5 separate regions of the Homo sapiens genome follow, and regions 2, 3, 4 and 5 are each linked to region 1. Evidence: fine-mapped expression QTL. A gene starts in region 1. Each other region holds a variant in brackets. All regions are shown on one strand. Distances are from middle to middle. Region 1 holds the start of ST8SIA1 (ST8 alpha-N-acetyl-neuraminide alpha-2,8-sialyltransferase 1). Region 2 holds the start of LOC112268093 (a long non-coding RNA gene). Region 3 overlaps ST8SIA1 (ST8 alpha-N-acetyl-neuraminide alpha-2,8-sialyltransferase 1). Region 4 overlaps ST8SIA1 (ST8 alpha-N-acetyl-neuraminide alpha-2,8-sialyltransferase 1). Region 5 has its middle 39 kb from the start of CMAS.

What was found.
Region 2: its variant is fine-mapped to the expression of ST8SIA1 in cerebellum (GTEx, PIP above 0.99). The same link has a PIP of 0.9 or more in cerebellar hemisphere.
Region 3: its variant is fine-mapped to the expression of ST8SIA1 in whole blood (TOPMed, PIP above 0.99).
Region 4: its variant is fine-mapped to the expression of ST8SIA1 in subcutaneous fat (TwinsUK, PIP 0.95).
Region 5: its variant is fine-mapped to the expression of ST8SIA1 in whole blood (INTERVAL, PIP 0.91).

Annotation. Positions count from the first base shown.
Region 1 is chr12:22,332,098-22,338,146 of GRCh38, forward strand. It overlaps ST8SIA1 (ST8 alpha-N-acetyl-neuraminide alpha-2,8-sialyltransferase 1), which reads right to left and starts at 2,610. Exons shown (of 5, transcript NM_003034.4): 1 at 1,900-2,610. The coding sequence starts at 2,135. LOC105369151 (a long non-coding RNA gene) reads right to left here and starts at 1,893. Exons shown (of 2, transcript XR_931426.3): 1 at 756-1,893.
Region 2 is chr12:22,310,662-22,316,710 of GRCh38, forward strand. All of the region lies in intron 1 of ST8SIA1 (ST8 alpha-N-acetyl-neuraminide alpha-2,8-sialyltransferase 1), which reads right to left. It overlaps LOC112268093 (a long non-coding RNA gene), which reads right to left and starts at 5,285. Exons shown (of 2, transcript XR_002957409.2): 1 at 4,663-5,285. The variant C/A (reference allele first, on the strand shown) is at 3,152.
Region 3 is chr12:22,247,802-22,253,850 of GRCh38, forward strand. ST8SIA1 (ST8 alpha-N-acetyl-neuraminide alpha-2,8-sialyltransferase 1) reads right to left here. Exons shown (of 5, transcript NM_003034.4): 4 at 1,205-1,297. Among named protein-coding and RNA genes, the nearest start is that of ST8SIA1, 84 kb to the right of the region's middle. The variant C/T (reference allele first, on the strand shown) is at 3,186.
Region 4 is chr12:22,262,242-22,268,290 of GRCh38, forward strand. The region is part of intron 2 of ST8SIA1 (ST8 alpha-N-acetyl-neuraminide alpha-2,8-sialyltransferase 1); the gene reads right to left. Among named protein-coding and RNA genes, the nearest start is that of ST8SIA1, 69 kb to the right of the region's middle. The variant A/G (reference allele first, on the strand shown) is at 3,581.
Region 5 is chr12:22,082,620-22,088,668 of GRCh38, forward strand. No RefSeq gene overlaps it. Among named protein-coding and RNA genes, the nearest start is that of CMAS, 39 kb to the left of the region's middle. The variant T/C (reference allele first, on the strand shown) is at 3,262.

The sequences.
Region 1 (6,049 bases):
ACTCTGAAGCTCAAACTTATTTCAATAAGCAATGGTGCCTTTTACATGGTTTTACAGCCACTAACTTTGAGGGATATGTGTTTAGGTAGTTTTCATAGTGTGTGGATTTTAATAAGTAATTCTCTGCACATAGAGACCAGACCAGATAACAGCCAAACACACTGAAAATTACTCCAGGCTACAGAAAGCAAGGAACAAATGTGTCTCAGAAACTATCAGCCTGTGTGTCTCAGAATTTGAAGCATTTTCCACTTGACTGTATCCTCCAACAAGAAATCTATCCTCTAAGAGGGCTTCATTATTCCTCCTCCTATATTAAAAAAATGGACTCTTTCATTGCAAACCAATGGGAAGTTCTTAACTCATTTCCTTAGATCACTTGAAATGAAAGTGCTTTCTGTCTTTAGGGAAAATAATTGCTGGATGTGATGCCTTTTGCCTGCTCTTGAGTCCCACAATCAATACTGTGAAGGAAAGAAAAAATTAACCCTTAGATACTTTTAGGAAGAGTGAGGTTATTTTTAAATTCAATGATGGTAGAGTTCTAAAAAGGGAGAAGGAAAGTCCTCCCTTCCAAGGAGAATGCAGTTGCCTTCCTCTAAACAAATTGGCTCTGTTATCTTTTTAATCCTCTTTCCAGGAGGAGGCCTGAGAAGGAGATGGAAACCATATGTTTAAAAAGTTTTTAAAAATGTATAGATGCTCCTGAATATTTGTAAATAACTGCAGTGAAAAATGTTTACATTAGAACTCACCTGCCCTTGCACTGATTAGAAAGATCCTCTACAGAGCAGAGGAGATCATTTCCAACCACCCAGACCACTACAATCACAGGAAGAAGCCAACAGCAGCATCTTCAGCCCCAGAGACTAAAGGTGAAAGGGGCACCTCGCAGTGGTGGAAGCACCCGTGTGTTCCCTCAACATGCCTGGGGAGGTGGAGAGGAAGGGGAAGCAGCTCTGCCTTCCCTCCAATCTAACTACACAACCCCTGCTGCCGTAACTTATTTTTAGACATTTAATCTAAAATTCCCAGAAAGGAAGCGGATCTACAACCTCTGAGTGATCCTCAGAGTTCTGATTTCCAACCTGGCTTGGGCATTTTGTTTGTTTTCTGACTTCAGGTGCCTACTTAAAGTACATCTCCCATCTTCCAGAGGCATCCACAGCCTAAGCCAATAAAAAGAGCTGGGAGCTTTGGAGCTTTAAGTGATGAAAAATCCAGCACCCACAGGTCAAAAGTAATGACCTTGGGGAAGTTACTCATCCTTCTAAAGAATCAATTTGTGGTCAACAAGATGAGATAATAATACTAGACAGCTGTTCGAGATTTCAACACAAAAATTGCACAGTATCGTCTCTTAGTAGACGTCAGTCAGTACTATGCACTTGCTGTGGGCACACTGCGCAAAGCTGCGGGATCCGTCCATGTTTCCACTGCCCATCACTCCGACGTTGGGGACTTATGTTACCGACTGTGCACTCCACCTCGGGGAGATGCCTTTTACCTGCTTCTTGTTCCCTACAGCTTCAAATGTCTGCAGAGCCCAAGAGGTAAATTCTTATTAAGTGCAAGAGACTAAGTTATCCTGGGTTCTCCTTCCCTCTGTTTTGTTTATCCGTAAATTGTTAAATAAAACTCCGCTTTGGGAAGAAATGCGTCGAGTCTTTACATGCGCAAAGCAGGTGTCTGCACATCTCTGGGGATCAGGGGTGGGGAAGGAACCCTGACTAAAGTCTCCAGGTTGGGAATGGCACAAATGGAGGGAAAGGACATGGAAGAGCGGATGAAAGGGATGCCTCTGCGAGACGGTGCAAGGCGGTCCTCGCCGGTGACCCTGTCCTCTGCACTCGGGGAGGAAAGGACGCTAGAGGGGAGGAGCCGCGAGGGCAGGAGTACCTGAACGCTCTGGCCGCGGTCTGGTTCCTCCTCCACGCCGTGCCCTGTTGCAGCACCCCCTGCACGATCTCTTTCTCGTTGGGCAGCCGGTAGACGGGGAAGATGTAGAGCCAACAGAGGACCACGACACAGAGGGCACTGGCTCCCATGGGCAGCCGGGTCCGCGGGAACTTCCACGCCAGTACAGCCATGGCCCCTCTGGACGTTTGTCGCCGGGCCCGCCCGCAGGGGCTCATCGCAGCCCCGGCGTCCCAGGGGCGGGGGCCGGGGCCTCAGCACAAAGCTAGGCGAAGTGGCAGCGGAGGGTCCCCCACCGCCAGCCCCCCATGCACACACACCTTTGGTTCTCTTACTTGCAAACGCACGCACGCTTCTTCGGCCCCGTCGGCCCCAAAGGTCAGCGCAAGGATTTTTTCAAATGCAACTTTTCCAAGGATTTCTTTCTAGGGGAAGTGGCTGGGGGTGAAGTCACGATCTATGGCCATGGTCGCTTCCCCTGCAGAAGGCGGGCGCTGGGGTCTCCGAGTGCGCAGAGAGCGGCGGCGGCGAGTCGCTCCCGCCGGTTCTGCAGCATCACGGTCGCCCTCGGCGAGGGTCCGGGAGAAGGCTCGGCTCCCTCCTAAACATGTGGCCCGTGGCGTCCCCTTGTCCCCTCCGAGCGATGCTCCTGCGCCCTTCGCCGCCTCCCGCGCTGCTGCGCCGCCAGGCAACCCCCCCCCCCCCACCCCGCCCCGAGACGCGCTCTCTGCGCCGCACCAAGTCCTTGGAAATTTCCACGGCGGCCCGGGACCGCTATCCTGCCCCGGGCTCCTCCGCCTCGCCCGCCGGGACCCTCGCTCCCCACCCCTCCCGGAGAAGAAAAGAACTCGCTCTCATCAGTTAATTCAGCGGCGCGCCGCAGCCTTCCGCTGCGCCCCGGACTTCGCAGACAAACGCCCGGGGATTGGTGGAAATCAAGGTCTCCCCCTCCCTCCCCCACCCGCAAAATTGCCTCCTTCGACCCGATCCGAGCCGCGACACTCGCCCAGAGCGCGCACCCCTCACTCGTGCCCTTGTTCTTTGGAGATAACGGCAGACAATAAAAACCAACAGCCCCCCGCCAATAGAAATATATCAGTCCCTGAGTGTGGCGGAGACTGGCTAATATCCTGATCCTTCGACAAGCGGCCGGTGTGCCCAGGCTGTCACCCTGCTGCCGTCACCCTAGTCTTTCTCTAGCTGGTTGGATATTAACCCGCAGCCAGGCGCGAGGAGGCTGGCGGAGATTTATTCCTTCCTGGGCCCCCACCCCCATTAGCCGGTCCCGGAGCCGCGGCCCGTGTGTGTGCGCGCGCGCCCGCACACACACACACACACACACACACACACACACACACACACACGTTCACGGGCGCAAGCGAGCGCGCGCACGAGGAGGTGCGTGCACTCCGGGGTCCTCCGCCTCGCCTCCTCCCTGAAAGGAAGTGCTGCATCCAGATGTGCAGGCAGCTGGTGCCCAAACACTAGACCTCAAGATGTCACATTGCCTTGGAGGCGCGCGGCCTTTTAGATTAAAGGACCGTTGGTTCTTAGACGTCCTTCTTGCCCTTCTTGCTTGTGATAAGCGATAAGCTTATCGCAACCCCGACCTTGGAAAAGCACCACCCGCCTTGACCCACCGAGCCGAGAGAGTCGCTGTTAGCCATTTCTGCTCGCCCCGGCGGCCGACGCATAGCTCGGGTACCTCCTAGCGGTCGCCTATTCTATTTGCTTAAGCATCTCGTCAAGCATAAAGTGTGCAAGGACAAAGAAGAAACCTGGTCAGCTTAGTCATCACGAAAACAAAATCTAAGGCTATAACTCCATTTGTTCAGCCGACCAGGCTGCGGTGTCTGGTACCTTTGTCTAGCATCCGTCTCCACTGAGAGGTGGAACTTGAGAAGTTGATGCAAAGTTATTTACCAAAAGCGAAGTAGCATCCCAGATGACCACTTTAGTGTCATTTTCTCAACAATACTGTGCTCTTAGTTGAGTGACCTACTGCCCTCCACCGGCAGGCATGCCCCAGAAATCTCTGTCCTACTTAGGTAAATCAGTAGAGACAGGGGAAACCTTGAAATCCCAGTCACATCTTACCACAGTGGAGGCTGATACAGATTCTTTAAAATGAAGATCATCTTAAGTCCTGCAAAGTAACCAGCCAACTCTCTTCTATCCTGGAAAAGGGGAAGGGAAGGGGGAGCTTTTCCTACTTGCCTGGGCTTTGGATAAATCATCTGCCATCTTTGATCTTATAATTTAAGTAAAACACAAACCATTCCCATTTTTCTTCCTCAAGTTCAAGGACTATTTGTAGAGTAAATAACAAAGAAATAAACTGACAAACAAAACTAGGGCATATTACAGTTATGAAGGGGCTATGTAAATGTTTCCCTATATAATATCATAAGAATGCATTAAAGTCATGCTTTACATCAAAAGATCTGTGTGACACAATGTGCTGTTTTTCTTTCTTCTGCAAACTAAGAATTCTCTTACCTTGGTGGGCTTCTGCCCACCCAACAATCCAAACTTATTCCCTGCTTTTTCTTAACATGAGCACCAAATCTAATCAGGTCATCGCTCTCACCCTTCCAAGTCACACTACATTGGTCCGTTCTCACATTACTATAAAGAATACCACTGAGACTGGGTAATTTGTAAAGGAAAGAGGTTTAATTGACTCACAGTTCCACATGGCTGAGGAGGCCTCAGGAAACTTACAATCCTGGTGGAAGGCAAAGTGGCATGTCTTACTTGGTGGCAGGCAAGAGGGAGAATGTGTGTGTAGGATGAACTGTCAAACACTTATAAAACCATCAGATCTCGTGAGAACTCGCTATCATGAGAACAGCCTGGGGGAAACAGCCCCCACGATCCAATCACCTCTCACCAGGTCCCACCCTGGACACAGGGGGGTTACGGAGATTACAATTCAAGATAAGATTTGGGTGGGGACACAGAGCCAAACTATATCACACACAGGTCTCAGTTCTGTCACAGTGTTGTGATCCGCTCATGTGATGTGTGTTTGTTTTTGTTTTCTTTTTCTCCCCATGTATAAATCCAGTGCATTATTCAAGACCAAGCCAAGTTATCTAGAAAGTTCTCATTCAATAATGTGTTCCCAGGACACCTAAAACACAGACTTTATGAGAACTCAATAAATATTTGTGGTATCTGCTTCTACTCTCTTTGACCTCCTGTTCTGATGTCATAGTATTTGCTGGCTCTGACTGATGATTAAACACTTAGTTGTGTTGTGTTGTCTTGTATTGCTAGTATTTTTCATATATAACTATGTCTCACCAACTAGGCAGGAAGGGGATTTAGTTTTATGTATCAAATGAAAAGCCTGTGCTTTTGATCAAATTAGGACTCCACAGGGCATGGCTAAGTGTCTAGGAGAAGAGCAAGAACAATATTTCACATTTTCTTCATGTTCCTCCAGGTATCAACTCAGGCACTTCAACAAATAATTGTTGCTTGGTTTTATAATGAGATCCTCAAACTTATTCAGTCTATTGCCAAGGCATCACTGTTTAAGGAAAAGTATGAACCCCCAAGTTTTAATGTTTTAAATAAAATATTTTAATTGATATTTAGCCATCTTGTTTGTATGACTTATAGTAAGTAGCTTAGGTATTCTTTTATACTTCTGCATCTGAGTATGCTTAGCGGACACAAACAGGATTTCCTCAGGGACTAAACAACTTTTAAAACTCTATAAATGTGTAGTAGAAAAATGTAAAGGCAGGAGTCCAGATTAAACAGAATTGTCAGTGATTTGAGATAAAATTTTAAAAGGCCAATCTTCAGTCTCTGCTCAAGTTCTTCTTGTCAGAATGGCTTGGAATGGCCAGTCAAAAGCATAAAATGATGCCTGTTTCACAACCAATTACAACACCAAGGTAAATAAGGTTGTAGATTGAGAAAGGTTATAAATATAGTTTATCTGAATAAATGCATTTATTTATCTCCACTCCCTATTGTGACCTCACTAAAAGAAGAGTAAAGGAGTAAAAGTGAAAAAGATTCAGAAGAACAAGAAAAAACGAAGGAATACAAAAGCAGACAAAGGATGTCAAAAAGTTCACAAGCAGGAAAGCAATTAAACAAGTGTTAACTGACT
Region 2 (6,049 bases), 21 kb before region 1:
TAAAAGCAAAGCATATACGCCTCGGTGGATTTAGAAAAATCAGACTACAAAAAATGCTGACTTTTCTCTACACTCACTAGATAGCATGTCTTACAATATCGTACATTCCTTTTCCCATAAAAATAAATAAAAATATGATAAATCAACATGGCAACCCAAAATGAATTGACTAAAGAAAAACACAAGCTGAACAGAAGAGCTGAGACACGCATTATAGCCCCTGTAAGTGTTTCAGACAGCAGCTGCAGACTGTTCCCAGACACTCTGATAATGGAGAACATAATTAGTTTTCTTCAGCAAAGAAAAATAGAAGAACTGATGAGGTCAAAACCCATAAGTTAATTCAATTTAATGAATATTAGTGTTTGTTTCAATAAATCCCATGTGCTCAAAACTGCAGGTCACAGAAGACATGCAAAACACAAAGAACAGGCAGGGCATCCAGGTAATCACTCATTCATTCATTCACCTACTACTTATTATGCACTGAGTGTGTGTCAAAGACTACGTGCTAAACTTTGGGAATGAAGGTGAATAAGATGCAGTTTCTGTCCATAAGAATCTCATGGTCTTGTGGCAAGAGACAGCAGCAAATTATCCCAGCACATCTTATCAGTACTTGGAAGAGGACACACAGACTGCCACCTAGAGAGATAATTGGAAGGGTGGGTGGGGTGCAAGACAGCAGGTAGAGGGGGATAGAAGAATTTCTAAGGTCAAGGTGTAAACTGAGAATCGAAGGACTAGAAGGATTTATTCAGACAAGCAAAAGGCTAAGCAACATCATTCCCAAACACCACAGGCCAGTGCCAGTCCACAGCTATTTCTTCAATTGTCTCTGGCAAAATGAGGAAAATATAGGCAATGTGTGAGGTTTTCATAGTTTATTTTAATTAGTGGTCTTTATTCTGAGATGATGTCCTTTCTACTTTTTAAAATGTTAACATATAAAGGCTTCAATGAAATGGTGGTATTTTATAATTTCCTTATTGCTGTAATACAAAATCATCAACACTATTCATGTTTTTATTTATTTGGCAATTCTCTAGCCCATTAAATCCTAAATTTGGGAAACTGTGCATGATGCATCAACAGAATCACCAGTACTTGGCACGATCAATCAGCAGAGTACACACAGCAAGCAAATAAACAATAATAGTTTATGTAGGAGATTAATTGCATAAAGTAGGCAAGACCTCCATTGCAAAGGACTTTAAATGGCTGGCTAGGAAATTTAGGCTTCATCCCATAGTCAAAAAGGATGAAGGTGACTGTCAAAATTGAGGAATTAGTCAGTGGGCAAGTCCCCTACACTTTTTCTCTGGTGCTCCTTTCTAAAATGTTGATGCTGATAAGCACCCAACCTACCAGGCTTTGTGGGTACATAAACCACAACTGAGATGAGCTGATGATGTTCCCCATAAATTCTAGTGTGTTGCCCCAAAGGTAGAGGGTTAACATTAATAAAACCCTCCCTCTCCTCTAAATAAACGTATAAACTAACCAGCTGTTAAAATCTCCCCTCCTGGCTCTTTCTCCTGGATCACCTTTGGCCAGGATACTGCCTACCAGGGTCCTAGAATAGGACATGAAGTGAAGAAAACCAAAAGACACTTCTTAGGTTCTAATAAATGAATGGCACATCTTTCCCCAGACTTTGATTTTTATTTGTGATGGAGGACCACCTAGTAGCAATCTACTAAGTTAATTTTAAGAGTTATTAAAATTCAGTATTCAAACACCAGAACTGCCACATGTGAGAGTTTACCAAGGATTCTCATTCAACATTCTCCAAAGAAGCCTGGCTGCTGAGCAGCAGTTGGCAACAGAACAATGCTTCCTTTGTGCACAGACACATGCACGGTTTGGAAATTCCCACAATTGTCGGAAAAGACATGTTTTTTCAGTGCATCATTAGTGTTATGGGGACTTGGCTACGATTTTCAATTGCTATTGCTCTTGTTGGTAAATATAAATTAGTCATTGCTGGATTAAGCAAAAGCAGATTGTTTGTATTTGGTGTGGCAACCAAGTAGGGGCGTCACGGAAATGAAAAAAAAAAAAAAACAATAAATTTGTAAAAATAATTTGGTATTTAAATTCCTAAAAGCATTAAAGTGGTCCCGATGGACACAAGCAAAACTTTACTAAACTGAGTATACCATATTCTTTTCAATGCCGAAGTCTTCTAAAAGTTTTAATCAGAACTTTTAGTTAGCTTAGCAAAAAACTTTCATTTCTTGTGAATTACTGGTCTAACCCTTTGGTATACAGAGATGATAATTTACATTGATATTTTATGCCATAATTTTGGAATAACTTTTAAATTTGAGACATATCTGTAAAATTTACAGTTTAAATATGAATCATCTATAAATGCGCTGGTAGAGTCCGAGCTCATGGAGGCAGGCCATACCAAATGTGAATTCTGGCCCTATCTCCTACTACATATGAGACCTTGAGTATGTTCCATAGCCTCTCTAAGCCTTAGTTTTCGCAACTGCACAATAGAAATTAAATAGTACCTCCCTCATACATTAGTAGAGAGAACTAATAAAGCTCATACATATAAACCCCTTTGCATGGAAACTGTCACATTTCTCAACCACTTAGGCATTAGCAGCAGTAGTATTATTTAAGTTCATTTTTTTTCAACAACAGTAAAAACAGGTAAGATAAAAGGGCAAGAAAGCTCAGCGCAGTCAAGCTACCAAATAAACACACTTGAGTTTTGCCAATGAAGGAAATAGGAAAGGAACAGAACAAATGTTGGAGGAGTTATCTCCACACAGAAACCATGAGGCATAGAAAATGGGATAATGGCCAAATACACTCAAAATGAGAAGCAAGAGGATTCTAGCCTGTGCCAAAGGGCCTGGATAAACATTTGTCCACAAATGTCACCTATTTCAGTGAATCTAGACAACTAAGCTGGATACCCTCGATGTTCAACAACAAAAAAGAATCACTGGAACGTATACTTAATTGCACTCATATTGATGAATTTATGCATAAAGCCAATTTACCAATTTTTACGCTAATGATTTTAACTTTCACACAGGTACTGCTATATCTGGAACATGCCAGGAATGTCTATGGAGCCATGAGCATGTGTTGCCAGCAGGAAGGTGCCCCAGGCCATATGGACTGA[C/A]CAATCAGTGTCCAGATACCTGACACCAGCAGATATGTTCAACTTATGCCCTGGTATTTGCTCATAATGCAAATGTAGAAATTTTCATTCTTTAAAATGTCTATCTCTTTAAAAAATATTTTGGTTGCATTTGTTCCATGTAGGTGTGTCTATGTTTGGGTTTGTTGTAGGGTAAGGGGTGCATTTGGAATAAGCATTTTGTGGTCCTTAAAACCGTGAGTTGCTTTGTCTGAGGAGGGATAAAGGAGGCAATTAAGGATGTCAAGGAAGCTGTTTTCCCCATCCATCCAGACTCCTGCTAGCTTAATCCCACCACATGTACAAACAGCTGCTGCAAAATGGGACAGGACAGAGAAACTGACAACATGGCTACATGAAACCCTGCACTCTCCCCCTCCTTCCTCCATGCTCACTAGTACTACCCTTCACGGTATGTTTTTAGCCATCAAAGAACTCTCAAACATGATTATCCCACAAGGCCAAAATATGTTAACCCAGAGAGAAGAAAGCCAGCCAGTATGCCTCCTAACACAGTGTTTAACCTCCTCCTCAACGTATGCCATCATGGTGATAGCTTTAACTTTTCAGTCACCAGAGCATCTACTGGGAGGATCACTTGAAGACAATTCAGTGCATAACTGATAAAACCTACAGGAACACAACAAGAATCCTATCTAACAATTTAAAGAAAAATTTAAAGAAAAAAATGGAATAACTGGCTCAATTAGCAGAAGAAAACTCAGTTCTGGTCCACATTCCATGATATAGAGCAAGAGGACCCAAGTAGTGTCAAACCTGTCCAGTATTGAATTGTGTATCTTCCTTCTCTTCCACAAACTTTACAAAATCATTTCCTTATTCTGGAGGATTTTCTGTTGTGTCTGTTAGATCTGCCCATTCTATGCCATTCCCATTGTTTGTACTCTAGACTGGGCTCTCGGCATGACTGTTTCTTAACTCACATCCCTGGCTCCAGGCGTACTTCTCCCAGATTCATGCTCCTAATCACAGTTACCATGTTACTTACATACTCCAGAGCTGACGATAACTCTCAAACTCCAACTGAAGCTCATCCTAACCGCCCAAGGTTTTCTTTCATTTCTCCCACTCACATAATGCTGCTCAAACCAACCATTCAGCTAACTCTCAACCAAAAACCATTTCTCAGATTTTTCTCAGGCTCAGAATATGCATGACTGTTTCTCTGCCAATTCAAATCCCACTCACCCTCAAGATTAAGTTCAGCACTCCTCTCTGCTACCAAGTACCAGCATTTAATTGTCTGACCCACTAGTTACAATTACCTGGAGATCAGAGACTATGCCTTACACTTTCTTTATATTCTCCCTTGAAGCTGTCCTCATAGTAGAAACTCAATAATGACTCGTTGAATTTAAAAAAAAAAAGTGCTAAACAGAGTTGTAAATTCTATCACTTGCAAATAAGAAGCGTCTATTTCTGTCATTTTTCCTACTCCTTATTCATCCCCATCCCAACCACCCATCACAGACCTGTGCTTCACTGACAGAGGACTTGGTTTAGAGCAACCGTTCTTTCTCCCAGTAAGATTCATGCAGTAATCCCACTGCTAGAGAAAATATAGCAAAATTAACACGTACTGATTTTTAAAACCTAGAGAAGTTTCCTTTCTGAGCAGAACATCTATTTTTCCTCTTGCTTTCCATTTCCCCACAAGAATCTAAACTATTTTCCTTCTCTACCTCCCGTGCTCCCTCCTAAAATAATGACATTTCCAGAAACCAGATTCTTTTGATTTAAGCATCTCACAGTGAGCTGTGTTTCCTTTCAAACCGAGAACCTATAGTGAAGGGCAAGAGGAGAATATGCAGCAGCAAACCTTGAAGTAATGAGGGAACTAAACACCTCTGAACAATCCAGAAGAGATAAGAGTAGTTAGGGCAAGCAAATAAATTCACATTCACAAACCCCTTAATGTAAAAAAAAAAAAAAAAAAAATTCCCCTCACAGACAGGCAATGCTGTATGGTGAAATCATTGTTCTTAGAGTCAAAAGTCCATCGGGATAAACAGATAATGCCTGAGGGGCTTAAAACTTAGATGATGGGTTGATAGGTACAGCAAACCACTATGGCACACGTTTACCTGTGTAACAAACCTGCACATCCTGTACATGTAGCCCAGAACTTAAAATAAAATTAAATTAAATATTTAAAAAAGATAGAATTCTAAAAAAACTAAATACTCTGTTTAGGAAAATAAAATAAGAATTAAATATACAAGTAAATATTCTTAAACAAGAAGTTTCAGTTCTTAATAATAACATATAAATGAGTGAAATTCAAATAAAAAATCTCAACAAGAATCATTTGAACTTGCAAAACAATCTTAATTGTATCTGAGAGAAAAATATGACACAATAGCACAGAAAATTCTGACAAAGAAACAGTGATTGGCCCAGCATATATTAAAATGTACTATAAAGCTATGGTATGGCTTTAGAAAAGAACAAGTGAGACACAACTATGGAAGAAAAGTGGGACTTCTGAAATAGACCCACACATATTGGATTATCTAGAATGGATGGACTTGGCATTACAAATTAGTGGGGAGAGGTGAATTTTTGTTTTTGTTTTTGTTTCAGTAACATCTTGTGGAAAAAGTTGGATCTCTACCTCACTATACTAAAACAAATCACAGATAGATCTCAAATTTACATGCAAAAAGTTAAATCATAAAAATACCAGATGAAAATGTTTTGGGCTGCACGATTCATGACTCGAAGGCTCAAAAGCTATAAAAGAAAAAACTGATGAGGTTGATTGCCTGATAATTTTTAAAGTCGTTATGGAAAAAAAATTCAAACATAAACGTAAGCAGTCATAAGACAAATTGAGAAAAATATTTGCAACAGATGTGA
Region 3 (6,049 bases), 84 kb before region 1:
AAATATTTGATACAAAGACTTAATATCCATAATATAGAGTTCCTATAAATCAATAGAAAAATATTTTTTAAAGCAAGTCGAAAGTAGGCAAAAAATACAAAGGAGCAGAAGAAAAAATACTAATAGTCAATACCACTCAGCTCTTATTATATTCAGAAAAATGCAAATTAAGTAGAATATAATGTATCCTTTTTTTCCACAAATAGTATTGTTTTACATATGGGTAACAAGCAGTCTTATCCATTATTGAAGATAAATGGTACATTTGGGGAGGGTAATTTAACAATATCTCCCAAAATTAAAAGCTGATTGCATTTCTAGATATCTATTTTATGGGAATACTTATGAACCAAAACAAGTAGTGCCACGTTGTGAATAAGTGAACACACATGCTGATCACTTGGACGGGACTTAGATGACAAGCGCCTGGGCCCAGAACATCTGGATGTTTCCCTCCTAATTGCCAGGGACACAGGAGGACCTAAAGCAATGCTTGATTCCTCTTTCCTTGGAGACGGACTCCTTCTCTACAATGAACAGTCCTTGGAGAAACAGCTGATAGCTCGCTGATGCACTTCATCAATTAGAGACTGACCCCCTCCCCCACCCCCGCAGCTCCCACAGCAGCTTCCAAGATTCCAGGCAATTTCAAGATTTCTGGAATTGATCCTAGAACAAGAATTTTACATCTGCTCTCCCAAATATGATTGAATATAATATAATGTAATGTAATACAGTATACTATAACCACATATTCTTGTCCATTCTGACAATATTGCTATTTTAATGCATGTATGAATTGGCCAAAGCAATGTAATGGATTGGCCATTGCTTTGTTTTTATTCTTGATATTAATTCAGTTCACAGTTGCCAATCAATAAATTGGGACTGAAGCCAACAAATTGAAAAGTAGCAGTAATGAGTAAACAGAGTATTGTGCTGTTCTTTGAGCAAAACAATTGATCTTCTTGTTATTTCTATCATCTCTAAAGGCAAGAAACAGAATCCCAGAGGAAGCATAAAATATTGTTTGGATTCCCATAATCCTGTTTTCTTTATTTACAATTCCCTTCATCCTTCCTGCCTGTCCAGATGGTTTTCCTCTTGATTTCCCAAACTGAATTATGCTCACTGCCTTTGAAATGCTAAGTACTTGAGAAGACTTCATCTTCGTTCGTCACAAACAGAAGTCATAAACTCTTACCTTTGCCGAATTATGCTGGGATTAGCTGTCACTAACTGACTTTTGGATCCAACATCCTTAGTGTATTCACTTGACAAAGGAGGGAGATTGCATCTAGAGAAACAAGAACAAACATTTTGGAACAATTTGCATAGTTTTAAATCATCAGTTAGAATAATACAAATAGAAATGTTATTAATTCTAGCTGAATTCACGAGTAACTGTTTTGTTTTTTGTTTTTTTTTTTTTTTTGAGATGGAGTCTCGCTCTGTTGCCCAGGCTGGAGTACAGTGGTGTGATCTCCGCTCACTGCAAGCTCCACCTGCCGGGTTCACGCCATTCTCCTGCCTCAGCCTCCCGAGTAGCTGGGACTACAGGCACCTGCCACCACACCCGGCTAATTTTTTTTGTATTTTTAGTAGAGACGGAGTTTCACCGTGTTATCCAGGACGGTCTCGATCTCCTGACCTTGTGATCTGCCCGCCTTGGCCTCCCAAAGTACTGGGATTACAGGCGTGAGCCACTGCACCCAGCCAGTAACTGTTTTTTGTTTTGTTTTGTTTTGTTTTGTTTTTTACCACCTCTCCCTTTTAATAGACATTGGATGAATAATTAACTATCAGCATCTTCCAAATGCTGTCATAAAAACTACTCCTGTTTAGTAAGAAAGATAATGTCAGCCAAAGGGGCAAATTATCTACAAAAAGAAAGAGACAGTAACTAGGAGGTATTTATTCCATTCAAAATATTTTTGAGAGGGTAGGACAGACATTCTTAGACCTGAATTAAAGCTCAGGACAGTGTGATACACTAGAGGACATGGGACCTACAGTACCTCTGCACACCCATAAATCTCAAAAGACAAGGAGGAATTAATATATTTTCTTGTGTTTTTCTTTTTCCAAAATCAAAATTATAAGAGTGCATTCAGGGCCATGTACTATTCACTTAAATCACAGCATGTCTGACTTGTGTGTGTGTGGCCAATGGGTAGGCTGATTACTGGTGAAGGTATAATGGCTCATCATCCAAAGAAATGCAGTGATCCACCATCCCAGTTCAGCCAAAGGAAAGAGTACAGGTGATGTTTCCCTGGTGATGGGAACAGCCACCCCACTCCCACTCCCAAAACCCCACCCTGCCCCAGTTGCTCTCCTTGGCCACCATGTCTTATGAATGCTTACAATGGGAAATATGACCACTGCGAATTCAAATCCCATGGCTTTCTGCCTGTGGAACATTAGGCAAGTTAATTCATTTGCCTGACTTCAGTTTCTCCATTATACAAAATGAGGATAATGATTTTTCCTCTTTTCTTGAATTGTTGTTAAGGACTAAAAAAGGTATGTAATATAAAAATTCCCCAACCTTGATGTGTACACTTAGTAAATATTCAAAAATATCACAGGTCAGAAATAGCATACAAAAATAATTAAATATGTATTTATTATCTATGAAAATGCCAAATGCGCCTATAGTTTCCATTATGCTTTCTTTTATTACTGAGTCCTCATTTCTCCTCTTCAACCATATGTCTAACTTGATTCCTACCACATTAGGGCATCTGTAACTTTTTATTACTTCAGTAAACCAAAGCATCATTTACTTGTAGGTAAAGATATCTTACAAATATTGCAGTCTCTGCTAGTTCCCCAACTACTAAATTTTCCCTACAAATTACCCTCAGTATCCAGGCACCCACTCAGCTGATCAGCTCAAGTTCTCTGATTTTGTCTCTTATTTACCCTGTGAGTATCAACACATCAAGGCATCCTAGGCAGAAACTTGTCTCAGTTGATTTAGAATCTTCTTTTTATCTGCTCTTCGGTGATAAGATACTGGTTTTTCTGGTAGCTACCAACAGGTCAGTTAACCAGTCAGTGGCTTTTGCTGAATGCCCACTGAAAGCAAACACAGTGGGCATTATGGGGGCCTTGGGGGTGGAGCCCAAGTCAGAGAACCTACTCTTGAAGTATCCACAGTCAAGTGGTTGCCCCATATC[C/T]CATGTGGTTTCCTGAGGATTCTCATGAGGGAGTGAGTTTATGCATTAACAGCCAGGCTCATCCGGCTGTGGTAACTGATTGTGGTCTTGTGATTTAATTGATCTTTGCAAAGAGGAAGATGACTTCCAGGATAAAACACAGACTAAAATTTGGATACTTATCTCTTAAAGAAGCTTTGATCTTAATTGCCCTTGGAAGCAGGTGAGAATCAGCTATGTTACGCTAAAACTGTAAATTCTGAGTATTGCTGGAGAGTACTGTCAACATGTTTTGTCATTATTAAACAAACTGGTTTTCATGAGTAAATACTTTGTTTTCCTGTGTGTTCCATGGCTCATGTGTCTGGGTCTTTTCATATTTACTGCCACAGAGTAATAGCCCAATAAAAACTTGCAGGTATTTATTATCTTCTAGAACAGAGGTGAATGCTTAAAACCATGAAGATAACATTTTATATGAATTTTGATGTATTTCCAGAAAATAATGACAATACATTTTGGTGTAAGTTCTTCTGGGTAAACTTTTTCTCTAAGTGCAAATATCTGTGACACTTTCCTGTATCTCTTCTCTCAGGAAAAGCACACCAATAATTTTAGTTCCTCAACTCATAAATTGATAATTACAAAGATGTACACAAAAGGCACATTTAATACAGTCAAATTGTTTTAATAAGGCATAATTGTGGTGTAAAATGTTTCAAAGTTTGCATTATCGCTGTTGGCACAATTAACAAATATTAATGACTAAAGTGTCTTAGCAACTGTGCTCATGATCCTAAAAGAGATCTGATCAGAGAATTAATGAGAAGTGAATATTCTTTGAATTGGGATGTGGAAGTAAGTGGGAAATGGGCTTGAGAGAAAGAAATCTTAAAGCAGAAAAATCATGAAATTACTTTAATTTTTTTGTATATGTGAGCAGGCAAAACATACATTTGAGCATAATTCAAAAGGCACCAAAATTATGTTCCCTCATTCATGTCCCCAAGCCAACCAGTTCCTTTTGAGGATGCAATCCCTGTTAACTTTTGTCTGGCAAATCTTCCCAATAAATTGAATTCAATGATATTATTTTTTAAAGTACTGCTTTTGGCTACAGAGCAAATGTTTACTTTGAGAAATGGGAAATTGATTTTCAGCACTAGAAGATGTGTTTGAAAACATTTAAGCAAAGAAAATTATGAAATTATTATATCCTAGTCCTAGAAGACACTTTGAACTGTAATCTGGTATATCACTGTGTACAGGCAGTGCTATTTTTGGATGTTCTCTCTCACTGTATCTGTCCATTACACACCCTACAGTCTAGGACCAGACATACGACATGCTTTCTAATCTACGTTTATTCATTAAATGTTTAATTTTGAATATATAATATCTCGATACATTAAGCATGCCCCAAAATGCATATTAAGCAATGATTTATTAATAGATCTGCAAATGGTCAAATAATTTTGAAATAATTTATCAACTTTTATTACTCCTATAATTTAAAACATACATAAGGCTTTTAAACATTAAAATGTGTCATAAAACAGAACTATTCTTGAAATTAAATCAAAGGCATACGCATACATAGTTCTAGTTATGGTGCTACCTTCTTTGAGTTCTTTCAACCCTCATCTCCCCATATTTTAGAAACATTATGCTTAATACTGTGCCAGGCACTCTAATCAGAAGCGTTCATTAATTCTGAACTTGACTATATCAACACCAGATTGCATATAAGGCTAAAAAAGTCTTGTTTACTTGTGATAAATATGGCCCACTGGAAACAATAGATAACATTCTATGGTGCCTAAGCCTAGTCTTCTACACATTAGTAAACGTCCATCTTCACAAATGGATGACACACACACATACACACTCATGAATACAAAAATACACTTATTGTACTGCACGAAGTGTATTTACATTTCTACGTGTATCAAGGCCACTTGAAATCACTTCTTTGAATCTGTGAGTTGAATACTACGTATTCCTTCTTCCTTACATAATTTTTGGGAAGAGCACAAAAACTAATAATACTCAAGAGCAATTTGAAAATTTAAACTAAACTACATAAACGGTGTTACAATGATACGGTATTCATACAGTCATAGATAGAGTAAGAGTTGCCACAATGGGAAGGGCCTGAGGAATTGCCTACTCCCGCTTCCTCCTACAAATTAGAAAGCTGGGCCCCAGCAAGGGTAAAATAATGCACTGTAGGTCACAGACCTAGTCAACAACAGCAAGGACTTGTCTCCTATCTCGCTGTGTTCTTTGCTGGCTCTTCAGCCTCACCTAATGCCAAAGTACTGGAGAGGGTGCCTGAAGGTGGTTCAGGACTCCCTGCTCTTCTCACCTATTCATGCTCTCTAGGTGATTTTCTCCACTCCAATGCCTTCAATACCTCTCTGGCTCCATCTCAAGCCATTTTCCCCACTGTTCATGACACTGCAACAGCACTTGCTATCTTTCCCACCTTGGACTCTTGGGAAAGGTTGTTTCTCTGCTTAGGGTGAAACGAAGAGAAGACTCAGCTCACACGCCACTTCTCTTGAGAAGCTCCCGTGTGTCTGAATTCCCCCACGGTAGCAAACACATCTCTAGGATATAAATCCACTATAGAATTGTTCAACGCACCATTCCCAGAGCCAGCTCAAGGCCCATATGTCATGGGTGCTCAATGAGCAGGTGTTGCATTGACTGGAACTAAAAGAACTACATTTGTACTTTTTCCACTTTTCTGTTGTTTGTTCACGTTGAAAAGAAAAACTGCAATACAGAGGAAAAACTATGCTGAGGGTACCTGCATGAAGGAAAGGTGGGTATAGAAGGATCTAGACTCTCCTGCAGGCTTCACCAAGTGAGAAAAAAAA
Region 4 (6,049 bases), 70 kb before region 1:
TCAAGTCTGAAGAATTTAAACCCTGTTTGTTGTGCCTTATGTAAATAGTACTGGAGCATCTCAGAATGGTTTTTATAATTAAGTTAACAAAGCATCATTTACCAGAGTCACTTTCAAAGCCCGAAGCCCACCTCTTCCTCCTCTCCTTGTGCAATCCACACAAAGCAACAAAGAGCTGGCCAGCTGGGACTCCACCCCCAACCCTGAACAGCAGAGCCGGCACTGACCTCCACCACTGGCACAAGGAGACTTTACACCTACTCATCTTCCAACCCACAGACATAACTAGATGTCTTGAATGATAATTGTGTGACCTCTAGAAGCACATGAGTTAACCACCATAAATCATTCATTGTTGCAGAGTCTGAGCTGGTCTGGGAGGCAGGGCAAAAAGTAGGAAGTGCATGGAGAAAAAGAAAATGTAAACCACTTAGTGGATAGAGAATTGGATGCAACAGTAATTTTCACAGGAATGCACAACATTTTATTAAGAGCACTTCTGATTACAAATTAAGTTACAAGAGCCTTTGTGAGAGGCTGCCTTTGAGGCATGTCTACAATTTTAAAAATCAGCATCATGCATTGGTATGAAATCAAAATCTAAGAATTAAAAAGAAGTTCTTTAAAACCACTAAAGGGCAGAACAAGAGATTGCGGGCAGGCTGCAATGTCCTTACCTCCACGTTATAAAAAATAACTAACCTTAAATATAGATTTCTTGAATCCTTTTCGGATTCTTTTTGAATCTAAAAACTTCAGAATCCCCGAAGCAACCAGCTCACCAGGAATCTTATCAATAGTGGAGTTCTGTCAGAACTGACCTAAGGCCTGAACAGATATGAGGAGGCTCTGAGGCTCTGGTATTTATGAGAATTGAGTGCTAGATTGAATCAATTTAAGCAGACTACTGGCCAATTAAATATGTTTAATTTCAACAATTATCTAAGCAACGAACAGATATTCGAAATGTTCTCTAGCTTTTGAAGACGACAACAGGAGTCTCCGTGTTTTAAGTTTAATATAGGATATATCAGATTATTATGATCACTCTTACCATACTTCACTGCTTAGTTTCTGAGATGCGCTGAGTAATTTTTCACCTACTTTGCTTGTGATCATTCTTCTCCTGGCTCCCTTCTGCCACTCCCTAGTTCCTCTTTTATCTGCAGCCTACATTTGTTGCTTTGTTGCTTTTATATGTTGGGAGGATGCCAAAATTATTTATGAAAGCGTATTGTTTTAGAAATTTAAAATAATGAGGCTATCATAACTAAGTTTTGTTGATTTTGTTACACATTTATGTTTATGTGATACTCTTTTAGCTAAAAGAGTGATGCTTACTTTCACACTTGGCAATATAAAGAAAAATTGGTGTTTTGGTTGTTGGTGGCAAGAAGGTTTTGTTGTTCTTGTTTGTGTGTTTATTTGCCCTAGTAATCCCCGCCAAACTCTTTTCTCTTTGACAGGAAGGGGGAGCAGGTCTTCCTTGTCATGTAATTGTGTTTTAAAGCTAGAAAAATTATCCAGACACTCAGTATTTAGAATTGTGGCACCAAGTGCCACAATCAAGAAGAATCAATAGCAGTGTTAGCTGCAGGTCTCAAACCATATTGGAAAAGCACAGAGTTTGCTTTGCAAGCCTTCAGAGTGGTCTGAAAGGCTGTCACTACATGCCACCTGCTATCAGTCATGATGTCAAAACATATGTTTGCCCTTCTTAATGAAAATCTCAAGTTTTTGACCATAAGAACTCAACTCACACATCTAATTGCATTCCGACCCTTTTCTTTCTATATACCCTCACCCACGTATCCTCCTGGACTCCCACACACAATTATGCTTCATCCACACACATAATTTAATTTCTTGCCCATATGTTAATTATATCCTCAACTTAGGCATCTAAATACACACCCCTGCCTCATATTTAATTATAGCCCCCCTCTTATGAATGTAATTACATCATTCAGCCTCCCACCTAATTATGCCCTCCTTAACATATTTAATTGCACTGCCCTGCTCCAGGACCTAATTACATTCTAACCAGTGCACCAATCAAGCCCCCAACTCTCCAACAATACTCCTCACATGAACATCTCTTTATCCCTGTACCCCAGTCACTTTATTACTTCAGTTAAGGACTGGCAAATTCCCACAAGCGAATTCCTAGCGAGCATGGTGCCCAGCTAAACAAACAAAATAATAACAAGATGCAGCCAAATCAAAAGCAGTTTTGGTTCTTTCCAGTAAGTAAACTAACACGTATTGGCTTTTTCAGTCATTTAACTAGCCCCTTGGCAGTCCAAATTAAAATTTCAGTTGTTTTCTTACTTTGCATACGTAAGCATTTTATGATGAAAATATCTGGTAATTAGTTCAATTATTTCAGAGAAAAAAAACTTCTCATTATAGGTACTTAATTATTAAACCCTTTAAAAAACGTTACACATAATTTTCCCTTAAGATATATATTTGTACATGTTAATTATAGAATATTTGTAGTTTCCTACCACTCAAGGACTTTTAACTGTTCTTCAATTATATGAAAACAAATTTCCAGAAAGCTGCTAAGATTTGTATTCCCCATTCTATTAATAAAATTGTGATTTTAAAAGGATAGCTTCAGTGTTATGCTTTCTACACAGGATGCTTCTTTGGAAATTGAATGATGTGAATATTTATATAGTGGATGCTATTTGCCTATTAAAATTTCTTACTCAATCCATTATAAAAAATAACACAAAAGCATTCCAAAAAGTGTTTTGTATGTTTCACATATGATCTGTTATTCTGGATACAACTCATGTGGCATCAGTTCATGTGCCCATGCAGCAGATTTATTAAACATTTCATAGTCAAGTCCCAATGAATTGAAATTTTTTACTGATGTTGTTTCTGAACCATAAGGTGACAAAGACTGTGTCTATACTTCAGGGCAGAGGTTGACCACATTTTAAAAGTCCTCAAAACTGTTTTCTTTTCATGATGGAAAGGGAAGGAAATACGAAGGGCAGGCCCAACATTTCAAAGGTAGGGCCAATCATCTTAGCAGTGGAGCAAAACACGGAATAAGCAGCAGCAGGAAGTACTAAGCTTCATGCCATTGCTAGACGTCATACTTGCAATCCCCTCATTGGAAATACCACTGAAAGATTCATTTTCTCCAAATACAGAAAGCACATCTTCATGTTGATGAGCATCACCTTGTAGCCCGCCTGCCTGCATCCAGTCCCTGCTGTTAATGTTCCCCTATGACAATTGGCAAGTTATTTAACCTTAGGGCCTTAGTTGTCTCACTTGTAACAACTGTACTGACTTCTTACAGTTGTTGTGAGAATTAAATGACTTATGTCTGGCACAAGGTAAATGATCAATAATTGTTATTTTTATCTTTAAGAGATCAACATTTTCTCAGCAACACAGCCTAGAAATCTCAGAGCCATTTTTGCTCACCTCTCTCTTAATATCTACGTAACACCTCCCTCTGCAGAGGCTCTTCTGTTCTTCTCCTCTTTCCACTCTCACTGTAACTATTGTTTAAAATGGTTTAATGCTGTAAATTGGCCTCTAGTTCTTGCCT[A/G]TCATCAATCCTTCACTCTCATATCCTAATTCTTCTAAAACAAAAGCTAGTGCAAATCACTTTTCTAATAAAAAAAAAAGTACCATGTTTTCCCTTGCCCACAGACAAAAACACTTCCGATCTTCATTGAAGCACCCACCCAGGACCTCTCAACACCCTAAACTTCCTGTTCATTCTTTTCTACCAGCTGGTTATCTATGCATACACCCAATATTCCCTCCACACCATTTTACGCACCTGTGTTTCCTCAGACACAGCCTGAATTTCTTGTCTCCCTACCTCTGTTAAAGCTGCTTCAATGGCTCGCCCTCACCCCTTCTCCTTACTTTCTCTACTCTATTACCTGCCTTCCAAATTATTTTTCAACCTTAAGATCTATGAAGGGTCTGCAGGTACAGTGTCCAATAAAATTCCCTACAAGTGCAAGGAATGCTAAAAAAAACTCAAGCAGACAAGAGGCACACCGGAATTCATTTATGCCCCATGAGTCATGAGATTATGTATTAAAGCTGTGCACAGTGGCCGGTAAATGCACGTGGAATTGAAACAAATCATTTATTCAATACTTCAGAGACTTCCAAACTTATTACTGTTGCTACTGTTATTTTCTTTGCTTCAAAATCGAAGCCTTTATTGTTTCTCAGACAAGGTTATACCAGAAAACCCCTATTTAAAAAAAAAATATATATATATATAGGCCAGGCATGGTGGCTCACATCTATAATCCCAGAACTTCAGAAGGCTATGGCAGGAGGATTGCTTGAGGCCAGGAGTTTGAGACCAGCCTAGTAAAACTCTGTCTCTACTAAAAATATATATTTTTTAATTAGCCTAGCATCATGGCATGGACGTGTAGTCCCAGCTACTCGGGAGGCTGAGGTGGGAGGATCTGTTGAACCTAGGAGTTGAAGGCTGCAGTGAGCTATGATTGTGCCACTGCATTGCAGCCTGGGTGACCGAGTGAGACCCTGTCTCTTGAAAAAATGTGTGTACACATACTCACACCCACACACATACACAAAAGTATACACACACACACACACACACACACACACACACATATACACAAAAGAGAAGATGAGGTAAAGTGGGCACCCTTCCCCAATTTCTTGGTCTCTCTATTTCTGGAAGTGACACTTAGACACCCCAAGGAATTTGATGGTGTAGAAAACCATGAATAAAATCCAACTCCATTTTTTCAGAAATGAAGAACTACAAATACCAAGCAAGTTTCAGTTAAGAACATTTGGCAAGTATTTATTGAGTGCCAACTAACCATATACCAGTCACTGTATGAGATGCTGGGTCAGAAACTGTGAGCTTCAGTTCAGTATTTGCTACACTAAAAGGTGGTATCAATTAGGGCATCCATTTTGTTTTCAACTATAAATAGTGTGCAATTACTTAGTAAGTAATGCAGCAGACTGCTAAACTGTTAATCCAATTTAACTGACTAGGCACCTGAACTATCAGGACCAGGATCAATTGCCTGCTAATTAACTATTATTTTCATTTAAAAAAAAGCATGTCCATGATTGATTGTCTCATATATAACTATTTTATTCCATTAAAAGATAAATAAGCCAAGCAGAGAATATTCCTTTTGGGAATAACTGGCTGCTGCTGATGCTTTATTTCCCCAATTTAATAAAATGTATCTGCCATCCTTTCTTACTGATAAAAAGGAAAATAAGTGATTTCCAGAGCATCCTTCTCTTCCCAGTATTCCTGCCTTAATTATCTCTCAGGACTCTGCATACAAGCATCCAATCAACTGAGTTTTGCAGCCTGTAAATTACCTTCACACATTCCTACCTTTACTTATTTCTCCTGACCTGCTTGGCTTATCGTCTACCCTTTTTTCACAGTGTAACTCACATATTTCAGAGACACATGGAATTCATATTAAAGATGCATATTCTTGGTCTACTTCAGCCCTCTAGAAATAGGATCTCTGGGTAGAGCTTAGGAATCTGAAGTTGCCCTACACGATACAATTCACATGCACAGTGATGTTTGTGATCCACCTGATCTGCCAACTCTCAGATATGACCTGAGGTCTTCCTTCCCTAGAACCTTCCCTGACCTATGTCATCTTCCAGGATTGGCATGCACATCCTGCCCATTCCCACAGAAACACCTACTGCACTTACTGTCCGTCTCACTAAGCAGACATTCTAGGCCCTTAGCACTGGGTAACACTTGACTAGCTACTGTTGTGTACACCCATCTTCCACAACAGCGAATAAGCCCCTCAAGGGTATAAACCATGTCTTTGTAACTCTTAGTGTCTCCAGAGCCTACCACATAGGTATACAGATGTTTTCATTAATTAATTGATTTAATCCAGCCCCAGACTTTCTGGAGAAATGCCAAGAATCTATCTAAGCAAATGCAGCAAACCTGTTCCCTTTTTCAGACCACTGACAGAAAGGTTAAGGAAATTGCTAAATGATCCACAGACGAGCT
Region 5 (6,049 bases), 250 kb before region 1:
GCAGAGGATAAAAGCCCTGCTTCATTACCCCAAGAATGGACAACAGCTGAGAGGCCAGGCTAGCTTCAGCGCTCTCTGTGAGTCAACCGAGGCTGTATAGGAACCATCTCCTCTCTCTCTCCACAATCCTCCTCCTTCGTTTTCCATCTACAAGTGCGATCCCAGGAGCCTGCCTTCACAAACATCATGGACATTAATCTCCCTCCCCAAGCCTGCTTCTCAACCCAGGACACCAGGAAATATTTTTGAATGAGCAAGTGAAAGAATGTCCAAAATATCCTGTACCTTTTGGGATGGGTACTGGCTAAAGTAATTACTGTTATCTGAATTGCCAAGCTAAGCATGTTAATGATTTTCTAATTATTTAAAGGACCATGTGTGAAGTCTTAATAATCTCTGTTGTACTCTCCTGCATTTGGTCATTGGTTCTTTGCTATATACTGATGCAAATTACTTTTTCCAAGTTTAAAAGCTTTTTTTTTTTTTTTTTTTTTTTTTTTTTAGGAATGTGTCACCTTTGATAACCTGGTGCTTTTATCTGCCTGAACTGGTTGGGAAAGTTCTACTAAATACAGTACTAAAGAAAGTTGGTTTGTCCACATTTCATTGGTGACATTCCCAGTGTAGAACCTTTTCATGCTTTGTTATTGAATAGCTCTCAAAATTTAAAGTTGATGCAATATTATTTGTATGCTGATGAAAATACTTGATGTATTTTTAAAATTTCAGTGGTTGACATTTTGGCCACTGGGTGTCATCACAGATCTAGGTTTTAAAATGTGCAGTTGTCACTTGCTGACTGAAATTAACTAATAGAGTCTGATGAGGCTTAATGGTACATCTTCATCATTTGACCTTCATACATTGAGTATCAATCTCCACTATAGGAAATTGTTTATAAAGTACAATTTGGATACTTTTTAGTCTTTCTTTACAACACATCACATGGATAGAAGGAAAATTTCTTCTAACAATGTCTGGAGTGAGCCTTGAGTGGGGAAGTGTGGTGGGAAGGCTGAGATAGAAAGAGGACACGTAAATGATTAAGCTACTGCCTTACTAGAGGACCAGCGCCAACCGAAAAGAAAGATGTATTCCCAGCCTGGTGCGGTGGCTCAAGCCTGTAATCCCAGCGCTTTGGGAGGCCGAGGCAGGTGGATCACTTAAGGCCAGGGCTGTGAGACCAGCCTGGCCAACATGACGAAACCCCATCTCTACTAAAAATACAAAAACAATTAGCCAGGCATGGTGGCGCACGCCTCTAATCTCAGCTGCTTGGGAGTCTGAGGCACAAGAATCGCTTGAATCCGGAGGCAGAGGTTGCAGTGAGCCGAGATCGTGCCACTGCACTCCAGCCTGGGTAACAGAGCAAGACTGTCTCAAAACACACACACACACACACACACACACACACACACACACGTATTCCCTAAGCTACCCAGATCTATCACCTGGTTACCTCAGGCCATTACCATGACCTCTATCTTAATTTCTTTTAATCCTCACAACCTCTATAAAGCACTTTTATTTCATTTATTTTACAGGTGTGGAAATTGAGGCACAGAAAGGTTAATGATTATACCCAGGGCCAGACACTAGGTGCTAGATCCAAAATTTAAGACAGGGAACATTCCCAAGGGTAGCAGATTATACCTTGGCGAAGGCTTAGGCAGTGTTTCCTCAAAGATGGTCCCTCAACCACTTTCATCAAAATCATATAGTAATTGCTAAAATATATATTCCAGCACCTTCCCAGTGCTACTAAATCAAAATTTCTGGGATAACGTCTGGGAATTGGCATGTTAGTAAAATTCCATCAGATGACTTTTATGCACACTGAATTGTGAGAATCTATTAGAGGAATGAAATTGTGAAGGCCCCCTTTTCTGGAAAGGAAGGAGAGAGAGCAGCCCTCTGAAAGCACAGCAGGATGGAATCCAGGCTCAGGAACCATCCTATAGTCTTTTTAATAGGTACTCCGTGTGCATTGGAGACTTTCTTCCTGATTACCAACAGGCCTCAGGTGGCCTCATCCCGCCCACCTGCCTCCAGACATACACCTGTTCGTTGGAAGAGACTCTAACTCACTCAAGTCACTGTGGGGAGCTTCCAGCACATTCAGATGCCTAGAATAACCCAGACCAATCAAACCAGTGTCTTTTGGTATGAGGCCCAGATAATTGCTATTAAAAATATTTTTCCCCTGTGATTCTCATGTGGAGCCGGAGTTGACTACTACTGTTCTTGAGCAACAATTCCCAAATGGAATTTTAAACAATTACTTCAGAGGTAATTAGCATGCTGATATTTTGCAAAATGTGCTTTGAGAAATGGTCTAAAAGATATGAATGTACAACTGGGAAAAGAATGCCAATGAAGTTAAAAAAGTTGGACTATGACCCCTCTAGGCAACATTAAACTAAGGCTGGTTTTGTGGCTCTGGAGACTGGGCAGCTTTGGACCATAAAGAGGGTGAGGGATCTGTCAAGGAGCCGTCAAGTTCAGCCATAGTCTCTCTGCTCATGCCTGATCCACCTGGCCAGAGGGCCATATTTTGCAAAAGATGAGACCCAGCTGGCTATGTGGGCATGCTGGACACATGCCCACCAGAACAATTGTACATTAGGTGTACCTATTGTGTCTGAGGAAACATTGCTTACCTATTGCAGCCTCTGAGGCTTCATTTTGAGCCCCATTCCTGGGTCCCCCAACACACAGATTCATATCTGCAGACCTCTATCGTCACACTTTTCTTATTTAATTGTCACCCTTCACTTCTGTATGGAGGCTCAGAAGAGATGACCCCATGTGGCTTAATCATCAGTATTTTCAGAGTTTGGTACAGCTCCTGGAGTCCCTTCTAAAGGACTTCCTATCCTTCCTTCATCACTGTAAAAAATAGTGGGATAATTCTTCAAAATGAAACCCCTTTGTGCCTGCTTAGCAGAAAACCTGAAGTACCTATGAGAGCCAGAGTAGATGACTGTGGCTGGGGAGTGACCTCACATCTCTTTATCCTGTTCCATACACTTGCACTGCATTCCTTATTCTCTGTGTTTCCAAGGGGTGGTGTCCCTGAGGGAGGCATTTCAGGGCGTGGAAATGGTACTGACCTGGATGGGCCCTCAAGGGGTCTTTCTGTACTACTTCCTCATTTTATGGAAATAAATATATTACTTCTTAAGTTTACTTCAAGTTTCATGTCTTGTATTTTATAGCAGAAACCCAGGCCTAGAAAAGCCTTTGTAGAGCCAACACTTA[T/C]GAATGAGGCCAAGAGTTCATATGAGCCTACAGATTACCCTTCGTATATCAAATGAGGCCCGACTAGCCCACTGACTAGGTGTCCTTCCTGCCATACTTGTCCCTTTGCTGATTGGCATCCTAGAAGGAGTACTGTGGCAAGGGCTGTCACTACAGCCTCATTACTCTTTGGGCCTCAGCTTTATTTACATTTTGTAGAGGACTCAAGGAATTCCTATTTAGGTTTTATGAATCTCAGGGAGGATACTACTCCATTAGGTACAGAAGCATTATAACCTCAGTTGAAATTAGAAGCTGGACTCTCATAAGATGGGATAGTTGGCCTTTATTGTATCAGCAAAAGAATGAAATATTTATTGAATTGTCTAGAACTGCTTTTTGAAGCAAAATTAACATTATTAGTTTATATATTTACCCGATGCCTTTAAAATATTTCTGTCTGGAGCAAATAAACTTCTCTATATCATTTTCCAGCTCAGCTGTGTACTACCTAGCAAGATTTAGCTGGTCACACTAATTTACTTTAATTAAAATTCCCTTGGAACAATTACTCAGAAGTATGCTCTCTTTCTAAAACCCAGTTAGTCATCACTAGGATGTTCTCTCCCTACCTGCCTGAATCTCCCTTCGGCTGTCATTTATACAGACCCGGTAGACTGTGAAACTTTCACAAAATGAAGGAGCAATCTAACTAATGGAGAACATCTAAAGACCTATGTCTTCTCATCTCTATTAAGTCAAATTGATACTGTAAACTGATATAATCCATTGAAAGAAATAGCAAATTTGAATTGAGTAAGAGGACATTTTTAGAAATATACATACAAATACGTGTTTATCGTAGATACAAATTGTCTCAGATGTGTACTGCAGTTATTAATTGCAGCTTGAGAATTTCCTTTTCATCCCAGCAATAATATACAGCCAGTCAACAATTAGGGATGAGTAAACTCTCATAGCTACATAGCAAGAGTCATGATTATTTAAAACTACTAATGATTATATTGCAATTGAACCAAAACTGCTCAAATTTATTTACCTAAAAATCTGTTTAGTTATACCTTGTGTTCCTCATACTTTGGAAATGTGGCAATCCACTCTTCTTATCTAAATGGGGCACAGCATTTGCCTGTAATTAGTTTCCTAATTGGTTACTCATGGGGCTAGGTGTGTGGCTGACTCCTTATTCATCAAGTGTCATGTTGCTTTTCATCGAAAGTAGCCACAAGGGCCATTTCCTCTGCTAAATGGAAATTCCACCTAGGCCTGTACCTGTGCATCTAGGAAAAAACCAACAATTCTTTTATTAAACTAAAGTATAAAAATAAATAAAACCAATGTGAACATTGTTTAAATGCTACATTATCCTTCTTTAACACTGATTTCCAACTACACGATATGGTTTGGCTCTGTGTCCCCACCCAAATCTCATGTCAAATTGTAATCCTCATGTGTCAGGGGAGGCATCTGGTGGGAAGTGACTGGATTATGGGGGCGGATTTCCCCCATGCTGTTCTCATGATAGTGAGTGAGTTCTCATGAGATCTGATGGTTTAAAAGTATGGCACTTCCCCCCTCGCTCACTCTGTCAAGCATAAGACGTGCTTGCTTCCCTTTTGCTCTCCGCCATGATTGTAAGTTTCCTGAGGCCCCCCAGTAATGCTTCCTGTTAAACCTGTGGAACTGTGAGTCCATTAAACCTCTTTTCTTTATAAATTACCCAGTCTCAGGTAGTTCTTTATAGCAGCATGAAAACAGACTAATACACCTGACTTTAAATGGTATCTTATAAATCTGTGAATGAGCTGCTTAAAGGCAGAAAGAGATTCTGTTCTATAGTCTTACACTTTACAAGGAGAAATTATCAAAGAGAAAAGGCTAAAATACATTGAATGAAACCCACCAACCTGTCTGCCAGATGTGTTTATCATATAGGTAATAGCTACGGGCTAGTTTTATAATTTATAACTGATTTTTGCTTACCTTTATGTTTGAAGGAGGATGGGTAAAATTTCTTATTACACTCAGAATGGATTAAGAGGCACTGAAAGGCAAGAATCAATAACATATTGTGACTGGTTTGATTTGGAAAGTGGAGGAAAAGCAAAGAATTAGGTGACACTAAGCATTCATGCCTACAGGATCAGGAAGCTGCACAGTAGATAAAAAGACAGGAGTGTGTTTATTCATTCTTCAAATCATGCATTAATTAATTCATTCTTCCATGCAACACGTATTTATTGAACAATTTCTGTGGAAAATACACTGCATCAGTCCCCGAAGAGGCTGGTTATGAGCTCTCTGTATGTTTACAATAAAATGAGGGAAAAAAGGTTTACACAATGTGAAACAGCTAAATGATAATGGAAGAGAACATATGATTAGGTTAAAAACAAAGAATTGACTAATGCAGACATGAAGTACTAGGAGAATACAAAAATAGGATCAATGTGGGTTGCAGTATTGGAACTGAGTTTTTCCAGAAGACATAGAATTTAAGTTGGTCCATGAGCTCATTCACAATGAACATTTGTTAAACATCTATTATGAGTGCTGTGCTTGGCTAGGTGTGCTGAAGGATGCAAAAATGAACAGCATGTGAACTCTAATTGGCAAGAACTTTACAAACTGGAATGGCAGGTGGACATTTACTTAATAACACAAGGCTCAAATGATAAAATATGAAAAGTAAAATATAAGCGAAGAGTCTATGGAGAGTCAATGAGGAAGAAATGAAAAATAACAGGGGCAAGGACTGGGGACTATCAGAGCAGGTTGTCATAGAACT